2 separate regions of the Homo sapiens genome follow, and region 1 is linked to region 2. Evidence: fine-mapped expression QTL. A gene starts in region 2. The other region holds a variant in brackets. All regions are shown on one strand. Distances are from middle to middle. Region 1 overlaps TBK1 (TANK binding kinase 1). Region 2 holds the start of XPOT (exportin for tRNA).

Region 1 (4,000 bases), 78 kb before region 2:
CATGCAGCTGGGACTACAGGTGCAAGCCACCATGCCCCACTAATTTTTGTTTTATTTTTTTGTAGAGACAAGGTCTCACTATGTTGCCCAGGCTGGCTGTATTTTTCTAATGGCTAGTAAGAACGACAAGAAAAATCCCAACTTACTTTTTTCATATATTAATCCTATGGTATTCAGAGGTTCCCGGCTTACTACAAATATAGGGTTTTCCTCAGTAGTTTTAGGGAAATGTTGTGCCAGCCTTCCAGGTTCTAAGACTAAGCGTCGCCCTTCGTAGATAAGTTCTTGATTTGAAGAAATAATTTTGGTTTGTTTATATACCAGTTCATGAAATATAGTAGCACTGTGTGAGAAAAATTCAAAAGGACACTATAACTGGGGATAAAGTGAGAGGCAAAATATTTTAAATGAGTGCAACAACATCCATTTCTAATTCATATCCCTAATATCATAACCAGTCCATATAAACTTGCTTTGTTAATGTGGATACTACAAACTCCATTCCATATAACCTGTCCATACAGTAAGCAATTCTAAAGTATTTTTATGTTTGGATACCTGTGTAATATACAGGATTCTTAATATTTTCTTTCCTCTGTGTGTGTGTGTGTGTGTGTGTGTGTGTGTGTGTGTGTATGTGAGACAGAGTTTCGCTCTGTTGCCCAGGATGGAGTGCAGTGGCACGATCTTGACTCACTGCAGCCTCCGCCTCCTGGATTCAAGCGATTCTCGTGCCTCAGCCTCCTGAGTAGCTGGGATTACAAACATGCACCACCACACCCAGCTGATTTTTGTATTTTTAATAGAGACAGGGTTACGCCATGCTGGCCAGGCTGGTTTCGAACTCCTGGCCTCAAGTGATACACCTGCCTCGGCCTCCCAAAGTGCTGGGATTACAGGTGTGAGCCACTGTGCCTGGCCAAGATTATTAATATTTTCAAATAGAGAACCAACATAGCAGAGCGGTTTAGAGCACTGACTTGAATCAGATACATGGGTTCAAATCTCAGCTCTTCCACTAACTTCCTATAAAACCGTAAGTGACTTAACTCCTCTGCACTGTTTCCTCATCAGTAAAATGGAAATAATAACAGTACCCACTTCACAGAATTGTTGTGAGGATTAAATGGCTTAAATATGTAAAGAACCAAGAACAGCACTTGTTATGTGACTATATGTTTGTTAAATACATTAATAAAACTAGGTATTTTCAAAATGATGCTTCGGGGGAAAAGACAGCTTCCCCATGAATAGATCAATGACATCAAAAGAAATGTTTCAGCAGCAATATTGTAATTTGGCTCTACAAGCCTCCACTGTGTCACCTTTTGAAAATTTTTTGTTTTTAATTTTTGTGTGTACATAGGAAATGAATATATTTATGAGGTACATGAGATGTTTTGTTACAGACATGCAATACATAATAATCACACCATGGAGAATGGGGTATCCATCCAGTCAAGCATTTATCTTTTGTGTTACAGAAAATCAAATTATATTTTTTTAGCTATTTTAAAATGTACAATTAAGTTATTATTAACGATAATCACACTGGGTGAGCTTTTTACAAAACATTGACATCACTGTAGATTCACATGCAGTTCTAAGAAATGATGAAGAGAGACACCATATATTCTTCTCCCAGCTTCCCCCAATGGTGGCATCCTGCATATAGCAAAGCATCACAACCAGCTATTAACATTGATACACCCAACTTACTCAAATTTCCCCAGTTTTACATGCAAGTATATGTATGTGTACAGTCATGCATTGCTTAATGATGGGAATAGTTCTAAAAACTGCATCATTGTGTGAACATCACAGAGTATATTTACAGAAAACTACATGGTATAGCCTTCTACACACCTAGGCTATATAGGGTAGCTAGCCTACTGCTCCTAGGCTACGAACCTGTACAGCATGCTACTGTACTTAATACTGCAGGCAGCTGTAACATAATTAGAAACAGTATTTGTATATCTGAACATGTCTAAACATAGAAAAGGTACAGTAAAAATATGATATTATAATCTTACGGAACCAGTGTTGTATATATGGTCCATCATTGACCAAAACTTTATATGCAGTTTTATCACATGGGTAGTTTTTTTTAATCACATGGGTGTAATGTGTTTTTGTTTACATAAAACAAACACTGATTATTTTTCCGGAGCCAGGTGCTTTAACCATTATTATGGTTAATAGTAACCATATTATCTGCATAGGGTTATCATAGGCAAATAACCATGCTAACAATGAAGACTTAGGCTTTGATATTTTAACATGGCAGGATAGTACACTTAGCAAAACCTGGCTGGTTTATTGGTAGATGCCATTTGTGGTTATGTGATTATGTAACTTGAAAGAAGGCACAGCAATGAAA[G/A]TACTTTTGTAAAACTTACAGTTTAAGAAACAAGCTAATTTAACTATAAATTTTAGAATTATCAATCCTTTTACTCCAAAAATAAGTGAAAAGGAATTTACTAAGCACTTAAATATAATTTTCCATGTGGGAAATGGGTACTTTTGGTGAAGCTGAGGCATCTTTTCTATTTCTTTTCCTAACTTAGGAAAATATTATATAACAGAACATGTTGATACAAGAAGAAAATAGAGATACTTACGTATTATAGCTATGAATATAAATCTTATGAGCTGTCATTTGTTGTAGCGAAAAAACATGAATTACCATTCGGTGAAGTATATCACTAGTTTCTGCAAAAAACTGGTCAAAACCCCAACACTTTTCCTGATCTGCTTCAAGGATGTTTGCAAGAACAGGGGTAAGTAGAACCTGAAGACCCCTAAAATAGTATTGAAAAGTTACTTGAAGAGTGAATATATCATATTCTGTCTAGGTTAAAAAATCATAGTATTTACCAGCAAATCAAAGGAACTGTCATTATTACTATATTAGATTAATTTAAAAAATTTAAAATCTGTCAACTTTTCAGAAAGCTAGGTAACCTTCATTTAATGCCACTCATCAATGAATAAGGAATTATAGCTTTTTTTCTTCTAGAAATGGGGTCTTGTTATGTTGCCCAGGCTGAAGTGCAGCAGCTATTCACAGATGCTTTATGCATTGCAGTCTCAAACTCTGGGGCTCAAGTATCCTGTCTCAGCTTCCTGAGCAGGTGGGATTATAGGTGTATGCCACCGTGCCAAGACCCATTACATTTCTGGTAGTTGTTTTCACGGCTGATTTGTAGTACTTAGAGTTCTTACTATTTAAAACAAAAAAATTATATAATATACTTTCTGGCATCTAAGCAATTTTTCTCAAAGAATTTGTAACTTGGTATGCTAAAGACTGATTCGATAGATAATGCCTGTTACCCTCCAGAAATATGCTGCAGTTCAGATCATCAGATTTTTTTGATTCTGAGTTTTGGCAATATAATTATTTACCAGCAAGTGTTCATTTTCTGAGCCCTTTACACTTTATCAGTTTTGCCTGAGATCCCCAAAATGAGTATTTCCTAAATAAAAATTTAACACAAATCACAGTTATAATATTAAATTTCTACTCTCCAACACAATGAATTTCTCTTAGTAATCTAGTTACATGACGATTTCATTTTGGAAACTTTTTAAAATAACACACACAAAAAACTGTTAACAATAGTGGTTTTTGAAAATGATTTCAGCATTGGAACTCTTGGTTTAAATGAATTTTCACAGAACCCAACATATAAAATGATAAGTGATATTTTATTAGCTTGTTTTATATATTTATTTATTTAAAGTCATACAAAAAGCACCCACAACTTAAAAAAGGTGATAAGCCACTAATTCATAACTTGTGTCCAATTAAGGATTATATAACTACCACACTCAAGAAAAATGGAAGCTAATTCAGTAATCACAGATACTAAATACCGATGCATGTCTTGGCTTTGTTTCCAGAGTGAAATACAAAATAATTTACTTTCTACTTTTAATTTCTTTTACCTTAATTCTTTCTTTGTGGTAACAGGATTCTTAAATGACAATATAA
Region 2 (4,533 bases):
ATTTCGGAGTTTCTAAGAATCCCTGATTGAGAAGTCCAATAAAAGCTTCCTTGAATTTGCTATGGCTTTTTAAAAAAATGCTGGCCAGGCAGGGTGGCTCACGCCTATAATCCCAGCACTAAGGAAGGCCGAGGGGAGGGGGGCGCAGATCAACTGAGGTCGGGAGTTCGAGACCAGCCTGACCAACATGGAGAAACCCCGTCTCTACTAAAAATACAAAAATTAGCCGGGTGTGGTGGCACATGCCTGCAATCCCAGCTATTCGGGAGGCTGAGGCAGGAGAATCGCTTGAACCCGGGAGGCGGAGGTTGCAGTGAGCTGAGATGGCGCCACCGCACTCCAGCCTGGTCAACGAGAGCGAAACTCCATCTAAAAAAAATTGCTGGCTGGGCACGGTGGCTCACGCCTGTAATCCCAGCATTTTGGGAGGCCGAGGTGGGCGGATCACGAGGTCAGGAGTTCGAGACCAGCCTGACCAACACGGTGAAACGCCGTCTCTACTAAAAATACAAAAATTAGCTGGGCATGGTGGCCTGCGCCTGTAATCCCAGCTACCCAGGAGGCTGAGGCAGAAGACTCGCATGAACCCGGGAGGGGGAGGTTGCAGTGAGCGGAGATCGTGTCATTGCACTCCCGCCTGGGCGACAGAGTGAGACACTGTGTCAAAAAAAAGAAAAAGTGCTTAAGCTTGGTCAAGTCACTCTGAAGCTATCGGGAGAAAAATGAAGTGGCCCTAAGGAAAACATAGCCAATAAACCCAAGGAAACAAACTAGTTAACAGTTGTCACTACAGAAAGAATCCCCCACATAGAAGGCATTTGGACGATCAATATGCAGTGGAAGGCCGGGCGCGGTGGCTCACGCCTGTAATCCCAGCACTTTGGGAGGCTGAGGCGGGCGGATCGCGAGGTCAAGAGATCGAGACCATCCTGGCTAACACGGTGAAACTCCATCTCTACGAAAAATACAAAAAGTAGCCAGGTGTGGCGGGGCGCACCTGTAATAGAGCTACTCGGGAGGCTGAGGCTGCAGAATCACTTGAACCTGGGAGGCAGAGGTTGCAGTGAGCCGAGATGGCACCACTGCACTGCAGCCTGGGCGACCGAGCGAGACTCCGTCTCAAAACAACAACAACAAAACCCCAAAAAATGTTTCAATACGGTAAACAATTATGCATCTTGCAAAGGTTCTTGGGGGAAGGCAAGCAACATACTTAAAATATTAAGCCTTAACTTTTCCTGGATAGCCATTAAGAATCAAACAATTTGGAAAAATTCCTCTACACCTACTGAAGACTGTTTCAAATACTACGACTGAATCTTTCCAGCCTTTTAACACCACGCTGACAAGTCGGTTTAATAAAACGTAACTCTCCCCCAACCCCCGCCCGCCACAACTAATTAGCACTTTCAAAAAGTACTCGTTTTTCTGGTTACAGGGAAACCTCATGCTTCTCTAGTCCTGCAGGATGGTGAGGAAGGTTTGAGAAGAAATGGAGCGTCCGTGCTGGCCAATTACTGCACAGAAATAACACTTTTCCTTTTTGTCCAGGGGTGGGGGAAGAATCAAGTTTGAGGTCTCCACAGTTGATAACGCTACAACGATGACTAACGGGCTTCGGAACCACAGGCGATGCCGACCCTCCTCTGCTAGCCTTGCTCCCATCCCTCCCCCGATCCCTCCCCTAAAGGAAGCCTCGTGGCAATTCGGGTGATGAAACACCAAGCAACCGCCGGCCACGCACTCGGGACGCGCTCCTCGGCGGCGGCCCCGGCTCGTACCCACCCCCACCCGGTCCGCCCAGCCAGGGGGTGCACCGCCATAGAGGGTCCCAAGCCTGCACCCTCCCTGGCGTCGGGACTCCCCCGGGCCGGTCCGCCCCGGCCAACTTCCTCGAAGCCTCACGCGGACCAAACCTGGTCCCGGTCCCGCTGCCCCCGAGCCCCGAGTCACCTTCCCTATCACTCCATCCCGCCTCCCAGCCTGCACTCCAGATGGTCAGCCAGCGGAGCGGAGCGGCGCGGCACGCAGAGAGCTGGGAGAGCGGCCCTCGTCCTTGTCGCCGTAGTCCTCCGCCACGGCCGCAGCTACAACGCCAGAGACGGTGCTGGCCGGGACCGCGCGCCTCTAGTCGCTCTGCGTCCCCTGGCACCTTCTCTTGCGTGGCGCCGGGCAGGCAGGCAGGCAGGCAAGCAAGCAAGCAAGCAAGCGGGCGGGGTCGGCGCCCCAGGAAGGGAAAGAGCGCGAGGGCCGGCTAACGCCGCCGCCGCCGCCGCAGCCGCCGCCGCCGCTGAGTCAGCGCGAAGCGCGCTCCCCGCGTCGGTGCCGCGCGGGCGGGCGCCGGCGCCAGCAGTCTCTTGGAGAGTGCGGGCGGCAGCCCGCGGGCTGACGCCGGAGGCCTACAACTCCCAGCATGCAGGGAGCGGCCGGCGCTTCCGGGCGGCGAGGCGCACACGCGCTCCCTGGCGCTCGCCGGAAGGCGTGGTCACCGGGGCTTGAGGTGCATGCCGGGATGAGGCATCCGGCCCAGGAGTCCCTACCCAGCTCCTAAATCCCCGGCTGTGTCTGCGTGGTGTCAGAGCTCAAGCGTCAGGTTCGCCCCGAGCATTCCACAAAGGGCTTCTAGTAGTTGAGAGTACGGATTCACGAATCAGGATGACGTGGTTCTAACCACGTGTGAGTCAATTTAATTGCTTGTCTACGGCCCCAAGTGTCCCGAGTACAGCAGTGTAAAGCTCTGATGAGTGCTGACAGGTTTTCAAAATTAATTAATTAATTTATTTATTTATTCTTTGAGACGGAGTCTCGCTCTGTCGCCCAGGATGGGGTGCAATGGCGAGATCTTGGCTCACTGCAACCTCCGCCTCCGGGGTTCAAGCAGTTCTCCTGCATCAGCCTCCTGAGTAGCTGGGATGACAGGCGCGCGCCACCATACCCAGCTAATTTTTGTATTTTTCGTAGAGACAGGGTTGCACCATGTTGGACAGGCTGATCTCGAACTCCTGACCTCAAGTGATCACCTGCCTCGGCCTCCCAAAGTACTGGGATTACAGGCGTGAGCCACGGTGTCCGGTCCAAAATTTATTTTAAACAGACTAAAATTTTGTCCATGAAAAGAAGGAGAGCATTCTTAGGAAGTCCTACTCACGGGATCTTTCGATGCTACTAAATGTCACTTCATTTATTTGGTCACAGATTTATTAATTTATTAATGCAACATAGAGGCAGTGTAGGCTTAGGCTGCCTCGACTTGACTGCCACTCCGCCTCCTCACTAGTTGACCTCAGGCACTTTACTTTAGTCTATCCATGCTTCAGTTTACTCGTATGTAAAATGGGGATTGTTAATAGTACCGACCTCAAAGGGTTTCTGTGAGGTTTGAGTTAATACATGTGTTTGACACACAATGTGCTCAATATTTACATTTCATTGTTGATTATTCAATGTGTACTAAATACAGACTAGGTTGCTGCCACAGACTACAAACAAAACTTGGAGAGGGAGGAATGGTAAGAGCATAGAATAAAACTAATGTTTTAACAGCTACCTTTATTTAGCTGTCCAAGACACTACACCAGGCATTTCCTATATAAAATACCTTGAATCACTCTTGCATCATGTTTCTAATTTATGTGTTTAAAATGTCAGGCTAGTGGCTACAAGATGTCGCTAAAGGAGAACTGGGTTTTAATTTTTTCTTGTTTTTAGAGAAAGGGTCTCGCTCTGTTACCCAGTCTGGAGTAGAGTGGTCATAGCTCACTGCAGCCTTGACCTCCTGGGCTCAAGCAATCCTCCTGCCTCAGCCGCCCAAGGAGCTGGGACTACGGGTGCATACCATCATACCTGGCTATTTTTGTTTGTTTTTGTAGAGATGGGGACTTGCTCTGTTGCCCAGGCTGATCTCTAACTCCCAGGCTCAAATGAACCTCCCACCTCAGCTTCCCAAAGTGTTGGAATTACGAGTGTGAGTCCCTGTGTCAGGCCTTAATTTTCTTCACGCTGCTCTCAGTTGGCTTCCCAACGAAATAGGTTCTTTGTTGTTCTGGCATACAAATTTTCTTTTGATTGTAATCCTTGCATGCATTATGTTTCTACTATTCAAATTATTAATTATTCAAATTAATTATAAACAAGAAGTATCTCTTGTTTTACTTCTGAGAAAACCAAAGTCATGGTATTCTCAAGACTAGAGATAATTCAACAAAGCCTGTGAATCTCCCTCATTTGGAATCTCTCTGGGCCCAATCTGTTTTCCACTGCTAGGGCGCTGCTGCTAAAGCTATATCATATGAAACCACCCTCCCTAAAAGCTCAGGGACCATCTCCAAATAGGAGGGCGAGTGAAACTGTAAGAGCTGGATTGATGGGTGGAATCTGGAAGCTAAAGTAACTCCATCTTTGGTACTAATCTGCCATGTTGGTTTCTGATTAACCCTGTTCCCGGAAGGCCTTTAAGATTTCAAGTTGTGTGAGAGCACATACTGTAAATTCTGCCCTTACGTCAAAACAGCCTTGATGTTATTGTACTTCAGT

Evidence for each region. PIP is the estimated chance that this variant, and not a neighbour inherited with it, causes the effect. A credible set is the group of variants that fine-mapping cannot tell apart.
Region 1: its variant is the best candidate, but not a certain one, in a credible set for the expression of XPOT in whole blood (INTERVAL, PIP 0.81).

Annotation. Positions count from the first base shown.
Region 1 is chr12:64,480,646-64,484,645 of GRCh38, reverse strand. TBK1 (TANK binding kinase 1) reads right to left here. Exons shown (of 21, transcript NM_013254.4): 8 at 2,625-2,804; 9 at 147-343. Among named protein-coding and RNA genes, the nearest start is that of TBK1, 31 kb to the right of the region's middle. The variant G/A (reference allele first, on the strand shown) is at 2,384.
Region 2 is chr12:64,402,225-64,406,757 of GRCh38, reverse strand. It overlaps XPOT (exportin for tRNA), which reads right to left and starts at 2,366. Exons shown (of 25, transcript NM_007235.6): 1 at 1,954-2,366. RefSeq lists enhancers at 768-1,644, 2,742-2,791 and silencers at 1,752-1,861, 2,192-2,351.